Regions from separate parts of the Homo sapiens genome. Here region 2 is reported to be linked to region 1. The links are microRNA targets in miRTarBase. Many come from high-throughput screens and were not tested one by one. Region 1 holds a microRNA gene; the other region holds the end of a gene's coding sequence.
Evidence for each region. The annotated mature microRNA hsa-miR-1291 reads UGGCCCUGACUGAAGACCAGCAGU and lies in region 1 at 2,385-2,408, opposite strand. An mRNA with a match to its seed (bases 2 to 7 or 8) in the 3' UTR can be bound and repressed. Matches are read on the target gene's strand: a 7mer-m8 pairs with bases 2 to 8, a 7mer-A1 pairs with bases 2 to 7 and ends in A, and an 8mer does both.

Region 1 (5,378 bases):
GTGAACTATAATCATGACACTGCTCTCCAGCCTGGGTGACATAGTCAGATCACATCTCAAATATAAACACACACATAAATAAAAAGTAATGTTTGTCTTTGTGGATAAAGTATAAAATGCACTAGACTAGGCTAGGCATGGTGGCTCACACCTATAATCCCAGCATTTTGGGAGGCTGAGGCAGGCAGATCACCTGAGGTCAGGAGTTCGAGACCAGCCTGGCCAACATGGCAAAACTCCATCTCTACTAAAAATACAAAATATAACCAGGCATGGTGGCACATGCCTGTAATCCCAGCTACTCGGGAGGCTGAGGCAGGAGAATCATTTGAATCTAGGAGATGCAGGTTGCAGTGAGCCGAGATTGAGCCACGGCACTCCAGCCTAGGTGACAGAGCCAGACTCCGTCTCAAAAAAAAAAAAAAAAAAAAGTACTAGACTAGAGAATCAAAAAAGCAGTGGGAACTACAAACTTAAAAAGAGTATCACTGGAAGACCCAGTAAAGGCAATCTCCCCAGTGGTTCATCTGATGGGCCTTTTATGAGTTACTTTCAACCATTCTCTGAATGTAAATGCTTAAAGTTAAGATGATGGTATAACTGTAAGCCATTCTGTGCCCATTTCAGTTCTTATAGAAAGTAATCTTTTGCCCTCCTTGTCATAATGCAGTATAGAAATAGACAATTTCTAGCATAGGTACCTCAACCCTAACTGAACTTCTATTTTAATCCTGCTCTAAGATTCAGTGTCAAAACGATCTTGACAATACCTATCTATGTCTATCTTAGTGATCCAGCATCAGGCCCAATTTCTCTATGTTTTAAGTATATTCCTACCACTAGAGAATTCTGAGATGGTATTAGCATTATTTTTTTAAAAATAATTATTTAAAATTTAAAAATATAGACACAGGGTCTCACCACATTGCCCAGACTGGTCTTGAAGTCCTGAGCTCAAGTGATCCGCCTACCTCAGCCTCCCAAAGTGCTGGGATTACAGGCGTAAGCCACCACGTCTGGCAGAGATGGCATTGGCATTAATCGTGAGAAATGGGAGTGGGTGTAGGAGACACAGAGTGGAGGGTAAAAAGAAGAAAGATATTTGGAACTGATGGGCTTTAATAAGTCCTGCCCCTTTTCATTTACTTCTTCCTTCAAAGCAAAACCAAAATGAGCTACTGAAGATTTATTTACTTCTTGGGATGGAAGTATCATCTGTCCCAACTTCCCTTTCCCATCAGAGACAGGTCCCCAAAACCGCGAAAAAGAAACTATATTCTCAAACAAAACATGCATTCAATTCAGGTGACTGTTTGATATTTTCATAACATTTTCTTTAACATTTAATAGAAACTATATACAATAAATTTTTACTATATTTTACATAAGATAGCAACCACAGAAATTTACATAGGTTAAAAGCAAGACGGATAAGGAGGACCCAGTCCTGTGGGCTGTTTTCTCAGAGGATAAAAAGCCAGAGTTCACCAGGGAAAGGGGTTAAAGACTGCCCAATTAAGTAGAGGTGAAGAAAAGCTAAACTGCAGGTCTTCAGATAGAGATAACCGATATTAGGGCCATCAGTATCTCAAAGACACCACTCACAAAGACAGCTCCCACCTAGCTACTTAAGTGGATTTCTATCCATGACTTGGGAAATCCCATTACAAAGATGTCACTTTCCTTTTAGGTATAGTCCCAAATAATCCCAGAAGCTTTGATAGGGATTATCTCTCTTTCTCTTCCTTGCCCTGAGTGGGAAGAAACCCACGGTCCACGTCCTCAAAATTTGGCTTTACGTTTGACTATAATACTCAATCCAGAAGAAAAACAAGGTAGTCTGGGTTGCCTGTGTTTTGTGAGAGATGATCAGAAATACTTCTTTGAAGAACGAGAAATTTAAATCCACCAAAGTAAAATGGTTCCCCAAACTATCAACTAATAGAAGTGGGTTCTGGCTTCCCATTTGCAGTAGCCAATCCACTCTGAGACAATGGTGCAGAGGCTTTCTCAGAATTTCGAGATCCCTGGGATCTGCACCCATCTCCAGCCATCTGCATCTGGCCCTGTTAAAAGAAATAAAGGCACTTCAGTTAGTAATTCATTCACTGTGGTCTGAAGTATGAATCTGACTTATCAGTGGCCACTTAAACTAGCAATAAGAACAATACAACAGAAATTAATTCTGGACAGATGCTCTTCCCATATTAGCTATCCTAGTCCCTTGGAAGAGCCTATTCCTGAGCCTCTTCCAATGGGATGGTGAGCTGTAGGTTGTTTCTTCCAAATGAAATAGCCATTCCCTACTGAGGTCCCAGAACAGCCAACAGACCACAGGAAGACAGTCCTTTAGGCCTCTGCTTGAAACCAACAGCCACAGTACAACTGCTGGTCTTCAGTCAGGGCCACTGGAATTCTACCCAAGGCTCACGGACAGAACTCAAATCACATTACTTTACTGGTCCTTCTACAATGAGAACAATTTCAGTGATGAACTCTCCCTCAGAAGGTATGATTTCCCTAGATTCCTTGTCTCAAGCTTTTATTTAAATAAATGTATGTCCTACTCTGGGATATGAGGATCACGGGCCATTAGGTGTTCTAAGAGCCCATCTGGAGAACTACAGCAACAAGGGTACACAGGAGCAGAGTAGGGCATTTTTAAAAGTGCTTTGCTTATATGGTATTCAATAAGTGAGAGACATGTGGAGCATCTTTATACTAGTGATGACACCCCACTCCCCTCCAGGAGCACATGCTATCTAGCAGGGAACCCTCTGCCTGGCCAGGTCACTACATGAGGGAAACAGGTGGGACTGTTCTTCACTTGCCAAAATATCCACTGGGTCTTCAGCAATTTCTTTGACTAAATGATCTTCAAGGGTTAGTGAAGGATCAAAAAGCAAAGGTGAAGGAGGACACTGCATACCATCACCCACAACATCCAAGTCCTAGAAAAAAGAGAAAAGCCCATCAGCAATACCAAGGGAAACAGTAATAAAGTTGGCATGTTTTTCAGCAAACTTTAAAGCAATACTCTGCTGTCTCCCTCAACCCTAGCCTACCTTTAATAAAAAAAAAATTTTACAAGAGCGTCCAACAAATGAAACAAGATCCAAAAGCACTGAGAGCTTTTGCTGCCAAGTGTAAAACATAGACCAATACAGTAGATTAAAAAACAAAATTCTGGCCACCACACCTCTAATCCCAGCACTTTGGGAGGCCAAGGTAGGCATATCACTTGAGCCCAGGAGTTCAAGACCAGCCTGGGCAACATGGTGAAACCCCGTCTCTACAAAAACTGCAAAAATAAGCCAGGCGCGGTGGCACACACCTGTAGTCCCAGCTACTCTGGAGGTTGAGGTGGGAGGATCCCTCAAGCTTGGGACGCAGAGGCTGCAGTGAGCCGAGACTGCACCTCTGCACTCTAACCTGGGTGGCAGAGCCAGACCCTGTCTCAAAAAAAAAAAAAATTCTAGGAAAATTCACAGAAACACAAAGTAGAAACGGAGAATAGTAGGGAACAGGGGAAAGGGAAAGGAGAGAGTTACTGTTTAAAAAGTACAAAGTTTCTGTTTGGGTTGATGAAAAAGTTCTGGAACAGAAAATGGTGATAGCTGTACAACATGGTAAATGTTCATAACACCACTGACTTGTACACTTAAAAACGGCCAGGTGCAGTGGCTCATGCCTATGATAACAACACCTTGGGAAGCCGAAGTGGGAGGATCACTTGAGGCCAGGAATTCAAGACCAGCCTGGGTGACACAGCAAGACTCCATCTCTACCTACCCACCTACTTACACACATACATACATAGGTTAAAAGAGTAAAATTTTGTTATGTATGTTTTACTACAATTAAAAAAATATTTTTTAAAAAAGCATATTCTCTGAGGCTACCTGTAATGAACATGTAAGTTCACCAGTGATTAATTTAAATATGAACAATGCTACGTTAAAATTAAATATTGCTGGGTAATACAAGATTGCCTGATTAATATCCTAACAGCCACAAAGCAAGCAAACAAGCTCCAACAAGGGAAAGGGAGAAGGTAGGAAGAAAGGAAGGACAACAGAAAACTCACAGTTCCTCTGAATGGCTAGGAAATATTATTTTGGTTAAGTCCCTATCCCGACAGAGCAACAACCTGGTTTTTTTTGTTTTGTTTTTTTTTTTTTTGAGACAGAGTCTCGCTCTGTCGCCCAGGCTGGAGTGCAGTGACGTGATCTCGGCTCACTGCAACCTCCGCCTCCTGGGTTCAAGTGATTCTCCTGCCTCAGCCTCCCCAGTAGCTGGGACTATGGGCGTGTGCCACCACGCCCAGCTAATTTTTTGTATTTTTAGTAGAGACAGGGTTTCACCATGTTAGCCAGGATGGCCTTGATCTCCCGACCAGTGATTGGCCCACCTCAGCCTCCCAAAGTGCTGGGATTACAGGCATGAGCCACCACGCCCGGCCAACTCCCTGGTTCTTAAGCCTAACATAGTTTTGCTCTGTAAAAAAAAAAAAAAAAAAAATGACATTACATTCTAGACTATGTTTCTTCCAACTGAATTGGCAATTCGCACTGGAATACTGAATAGCCAACAGACCACAAGGAAGACATCACTCTTAGCTCCTGTTTGAAACCAACAGCTACAGCAAACCATTGGTCTTGATTCAGGGCCTAAGGCAATACAAACTCAAACAATATATCAAACTAACTTTCATGCCACTGCTTTTCAAGAGTCTGGTGCTAAATTCTCCTTCTTCCTAAGAATTAAAAATATCCAGGAGGTTTGTACCCCCCTATGTTTAATCCAGTTTATAGATGCTCCGTGTTTCTATTCATCTAGCTTCACGAGAAGCTTAGTTCTACGCTTTTAAATAAATCTAAGAATTTGCAATCCTTTCCCATTTGTTGGTGTGCTAATCACCAAAAATGAGAATCACAACATCTTCACATTAAAGAATATATATAATTTTAAAATCTACTTAAAGCTGCTCAGGCCGGGTGCAGTGGCTCACGCCTGCAATCCTAACACTTTGGGAGGCCAAGGTGGGCGGATCATGAGGTCAAGAGATTGAGACCATCCTGGCTAACATGGTGAAACCCAGTCTCCACAAAAAATTACCAGCCTGGCCAACATGGTGAAACCCCATCTCTACTAAAAATACAAAAATTAGCCAGGCGTCTTGGCACATACCTGTAGTCCCAGCTACTCAGGACACTGAGGCAGGAGAATTGCTTGAACCCAGGAGGCAGAGGTTGCAGTGAGCCGAGACTGCACCACTGCACTCCAGTCTGGGCAACAGAGCAAGACTCTGTCTCAAAAAAAAATAATAAAATAAAGCTGCTCAATTTAAGCAGAAACATAGGGCACAGGATACACTC
Region 2 (5,378 bases), not on the chromosome of region 1:
AAGTAAAATTGTATTCACTGTGGGGAGGGAGAAACAGTTGTTGTTCAAAGGGTATAGGGTTACAGTCGTGCAAGATGAAAAAGTTCTGGAGATCTTTTGTACAATGTATATACGGTTAACAATACTGTAATGCACACTAAAAAAAGAGGTAAATTTGTGTCTTTTTTACCAGTTGACAGATAGCGATAGATAGATAGATAGATAGATAGATAGATAGATAGATAGATGATAGATAGATAGCAGATAGGTAGATAGGTAAGTAGATAAATAGATGATAGATTGATAGATACATAGATGGATGGATGGATAGATAGATAGAACCACCCCCCTCCCCCCGCCACCAACAAGACATGTTAACTCATTCTTTATCATTCAGTCAAGGTAGCATAGTAGGCCGGGCACGGCAGCTCATGCCTGTAATCCCAGCACTTTGGGAGGCTGAGGCAGGTGGATCTCTTGAGGCCAGGAGTTTGAGACCAGCCTGGCCAACATAGTGAAACCCCTTCTCTACTAAAAATACAAAAATTAGCTGAGTGTGGTGGCGCCAGCCTGTAATCCCAGCTACTGGGGGTGGGAAAGGAGGAACAGTACAACACCTTGAGTGCCACCCTGTTCCAGGGCAGATCAATTTTAGAAGGCTGAGGATCTGTAAGTGGATGCCAATAAAACTATTGTGCCTGTGCATCTTTTTGGAAAGTCTTAAGCTGTTCCCATTTAAAAACTGCTGATGCCCAGTTCTGCAGGGTGGGTTTCCTACTGGGATCTCCCTCAGTGCAAGAGCAGGGGAGAAACCAAGGAACTGGCAATGTCCCCTCCAGCAGCTGCAAGTCATGGCTTCCATTCCACCTGGCCTCCCACACTCCTTCTTCCTTGCACCTCTACTTCTCCATCCCACAACTTCTGTCTGTATCGGGATAGTCTACTAATGAGAATTCAGAGCCTCAGTGCCACTCATGGCTCAAGACTAAGGGTCATGGGGGTTCCCTCTCTTGGCTTTGGAGCCCCCCTCCCTCTGTCTCTGTATAGGGGAGCTTCTTCCTTCTCCCTTCCTTCTTGTCCCTCTTGCCTATTAAACTCTCCGCTCCTTAAAACCACTCCACGTGTGTCCATGTCGTTTTATCTAAACTGGCATGAGCACCAAGAACCCTGGTGTTCCTCCACTCATCAGAGCCGTATCATTTTAGTGCGTTGGCCAGGAAAGGAAATTCGTTCATCAGACTGAGTCAAGGAAACTTATTTTAAGCTATTTGTGGCCTTTAATAATTGAGTAAGGTGTACTCCTATGAACAAAATTTGGAGCATGTTTATTTCTCTGCCTGGTTCCTCTAGAATTTGGAAACTATCTGAATCAAGCTTGACAAGCAGAGCCAATAAAAGCCGCTTTGGGAGAACTGGCCTCATACCTTGTCTACACAGTCTCTGGACAGGGTTCCTAATCTGTAGTCAGTAAAGAATGTCATTTTTTAACACGTCTGGGAGCTCCGAGTTTATCTTGGGACCTCAAGAGGAGAGGATCACCCAACTAACAGGTATTTGAGGTTTGTATCCTCAAATACAAACTTTAGGCTTTAATAGTCTTATCTGAAATTCCTTGTGAAACAGAGTTTCATCAAAGCCAATCAAAAGGCCTGTGTACAAATAACCATTCTTGCTGCACTTTATGCAAATAATCAGGGCAAGTATAAGACTACAGTTTATTCATAACTTGTTTTTACCAAGAACGAGGACTAGAGAGAAAAATTGTGCTCCAAAGCTTATCATACATTTTTTTGTTTTTTGTTTTTGTTTTCAAGCTTTTCGCCTACATTTTAGACTAACCCTGCTTATTCCTGTGAATCAAGCAGTGATCTCCTGCAGCTTGGAAGAAAAATTAAGGGATGGGTAATATAAAATCTGAATCAATATATTAGTTCTGGGCAATTATTCTGCAAATTCTACCAGGTAATAAAAGTGAGTAGGGTGCCCATAACCCAGAGGTTTCTTCGTTTAGGAAAATAAAACCAAGGAACTTCATAGACCCCCAAAGGGGAATTCTATATCTTGACAGGTAAAAGTTTAGATGGAAATTATCTACCACACCACACTTATGGAAATAGCTATACTCACTCTATTATTTGCAATAGGATTATACATGGTAGCACCTTCTAACTGAAATATTAAACAGAGAGTTTCCATTGCTGTCATATTTTGCTTAATCATTATCCTTATAGCAGGGATAATAGCTACTAATGAAAAGGAAGCATAAAAGTTTTACTACCACTGAATCTGCTAGGACTTTTTATTGGGTTTAGTGATGCAGTTTTCAATGAAACATGCTGCTTTCGGATTAATGCCTCTAGTTAAAAGAAAATCTACAAGTACTTAAAAATCAAATCAAAATTATTGATCCCCGAGTGGCTACAATGCCTCTTTAATAAATTCCAGTCTTCTTTATGGAATTGGTTAACCCCTTTATTAAGCCCTCTCTTGCTTATGTGTCTTGTATTGATATTTGGACCCTGTATACACAATACTATAACTCAAATTGTTTCTTCTCATCTAGAAGCAATCAAACTCCAAATGGTGCTGTAAACAGAACCACACATAGACACATCATTCTTCTGAGGACCCTTAGATTGACCCCAGGAGGAGCCCTAGCTGCTCTTCCCCATTCGACGCCCTTTTGCAACAAGAAGTAGCCAGAAGGAGTCGTCGCCCAAAACTCCCTAACAGCAGTTAGTGTGGCATCTCCACAGGGGGGAATGTTGTAGGAGTTATTAAGAAATTATTTTAGGCAGATAGAGAGGAAAATGGGTCCTTGGGTCCTTGGGAAGTTTTTTGTTTTGTTTCTTTTTCTTTTTTTTTGAGACGGAGTTTTGCTCTTGTCGCCCAGGCTGGAGTGCAATGGTGCGATCTTGGCTCACCACAACCTCCGCCTCCTGGGTTCAAGCGATTCTCTGGCCTCAGCCTCCCGAGTAGCTGGGATTACAGGCATGCGCCACCACGCCCGGCTAATTTTGTATTTTTAGTAGAGACGGGGTTTCTACATGTTGGTCAGGCTGGAGTTTTCATTTTTTTGAAGCATCTCCAGAAAAGTTTCTTGTAAAGCCCCGGCTCTTAGAGCCAGGTTGGCAACCTTTGATATGCAAATGCAAGCCCTTAGAAACTGGGTCCACCCAAACATGGTGATTCCCCCGGCCTTCTTGCCCTTTCCCCACATGTTCCTGGCAATGTGGCTGCCCTCACATATCCCCAGGTGTGTAGACCTGCATTTGCATATTAAAAGGCTAGGGTGGGGCAAGGTGCGGTGGCTCACGCCTGTAATCCCAACACTTTGGGAGGCCGAGGCGGGCGGATCACCTGAGGTCAGGAGTTCCAGACCAGCCTGACCAACATGGAGAAATCCCGTCTCTACTAAAAATACAACAAAAATAGCGGGGTATTGTGGCACATACCTGTATTCTCAACTACTCGGGAGGCTGAGGCAGGAGAATTGCTTGTACCCGGGAGGCGGAGCTTGCGGTGAGCCGAGATTGCACGCCATTGCACTCCAGCCTGGGCAACAAGAGTGAAACTCCATCTCAAAAAAAAAAAAAAAAAAAAAAAAGGCTAGGGTGTGAGGGCCAGCTTTTTCCGAGGGCTACGTGAATGACACGCATAGTCAAACCAATCCCCTGAGCCCTATACAAATCAGACTCCTCCTCCTCCAGCCTCTGTATATATACCTAGATGGTATCTGTGGCAGGTGGGGTTCCCTCTCTCAGCTTTGGGGCCTCCGTCCCTCTGTCTCTGTACAGGGGAGCTTCTTCCTTCTCCCTTCCGTCTTGCCCCTTCTTGCCTATTAAACTCTCCGCTCCAAAAAAAAAAAAAAAAAAAGACTAAGGGTCATGGTCCCTCTCTCGTGGAATTGCAGTGAGGACTAAACGGGACTTACAGTGTGCCTGGAAGTTGAATTTGAGTCTGAGTCTGGGCTAAAAGGGCCCAGAGATGGTGACCTAAGGCCTTTGGCCCTTTATGGAGGAGGATGGAGGGAGCTGCTGGCCCACAGCTGACAGTGCCTGTTGGAATTTAGGAGTTCTGGCTCCTTTCTTGCTCTGCCTTTGAGGTTCTTCTGTGAGATTCTCTCTTATCACAGGGCCCAAGGGCTAAGACCACCAAAGCATAAAACGTTTCCAAGGAGTGGGAAGGTTTTAATGAGCATCCCAGAGGGACCAGGGGATACAAACTCCAAATCCAGCCTTTATATCATCATTATTTCAAGCAACAGGAGGAGGCTCAGCCTTGCTTAGCTCATTCCCAGATGAAGAGGCAGCTGGAGGGAAGTCCCTGAAAGTGCCTCTCTACCCAGCAGAGGGGCTAAGGGAAAGTGGAGAGGTCTCTGCTGCTGCTGCTGCTGCTGCTGCTGCTGTTGCTGCTACCACTGCCACCAAGAGCAGGGAGACCTCAAGCACCAAGCTGACCTTTGGAGGTCAGGACGGACCCAGAATCAGGCAGGAATTTGGCAGGAACATCAGACATTGGAAGGTTAGATGAGACTGAACAGGTGAGAAAACTCTTAGGGTCCCCAGACAGCATTGAGATCTCACAGAGGGGCCCCAAGGGCCTGCGACTCCAGGAGCTGAGACCCCCCAGGGAGGGAGGTACCTCTAGACTGAGACACTCACAAAGGGACCCCAGTTCAGCAAGGGTCAGAGGAAGGTCTGGAGGGAGAAGAGAGTAAAGGGCCCTGGGTGGGCAGGAGGCTGAGGAGGGAGCCTGGGGAGAGCACCAGGGCGGGGCATCAGGCCAGTGCCTGGAAGGTGTGGCCAAAGGGGTCTCTAGCTGCTGCTCTGCTGCTCCTGCTCATGGATGAGTTTGGCGATGGGGCCGGTGATGCCGCCTATCAAGGTCCAGTACTCATCGAAGCTGATGCGCCCATCATGATTGGCATCCAGGTTCTGGATGAGCTTATCCGCAGCCTTCCGGTTCCCTGTGTCCTGGGGAGGAAGCAGGGTCAGCAATGCTGATGGTGGAAGCCCCAGAGAGACTCCAGGCAGGACCCTAGGCAGAGACCCAGGATCTGGCCTGCACAGCTGCTTCCCTTGGGAAATGCAAATATAGCCCTCACTGGCTAGGCCTAAGCATCCTGAGAAGACAGAGGCCTGGGGGTGTAGAAGACCCTGGAGTTAGCGGGGACACTGGAAGGATAGAGGCCTCAGCAGGGAAAGACACCCTCAGAGGCCAGAGGCTTGCAGGGGAGGGAAGGGGAGAGGGAGGCAAGGCCCTTGGGTGAGAGGCCTTACCGACAGCATGTGGTTCAGCTCTTTCTGGAGCATCTCGCGGAAGCTGCTCTTGCTGATCTTGTTCTTGACCAGGCTGTACTTAGACACATATTTGTAGAAGTTTTCCACCAGGACAAT

Region 2: the mRNA of S100A16 is a reported target of hsa-miR-1291. Seed matches in the 3' UTR shown: 7mer-m8 at 4,702-4,708.

Annotation. Positions count from the first base shown.
Region 1 is chr12:48,652,110-48,657,487 of GRCh38, forward strand. MIR1291 (microRNA 1291) reads right to left here and starts at 2,421; the gene lies at 2,335-2,421. KANSL2 (KAT8 regulatory NSL complex subunit 2) reads right to left here. Exons shown (of 10, transcript NM_017822.4): 9 at 2,832-2,951; 10 at 1,102-2,066. The coding sequence ends at 1,935. It overlaps SNORA2C (small nucleolar RNA, H/ACA box 2C), which reads right to left and starts at 2,409; the gene lies at 2,273-2,409. SNORA2A (small nucleolar RNA, H/ACA box 2A) reads right to left here and starts at 4,673; the gene lies at 4,539-4,673.
Region 2 is chr1:153,602,738-153,608,115 of GRCh38, forward strand. S100A16 (S100 calcium binding protein A16) reads right to left here. Exons shown (of 3, transcript NM_080388.3): 2 at 5,262-5,378; 3 at 4,149-4,955. The coding sequence ends at 4,797. Among named protein-coding and RNA genes, the nearest start is that of S100A16, 7.7 kb to the right of the region's middle. RefSeq lists an enhancer at 2,293-3,248.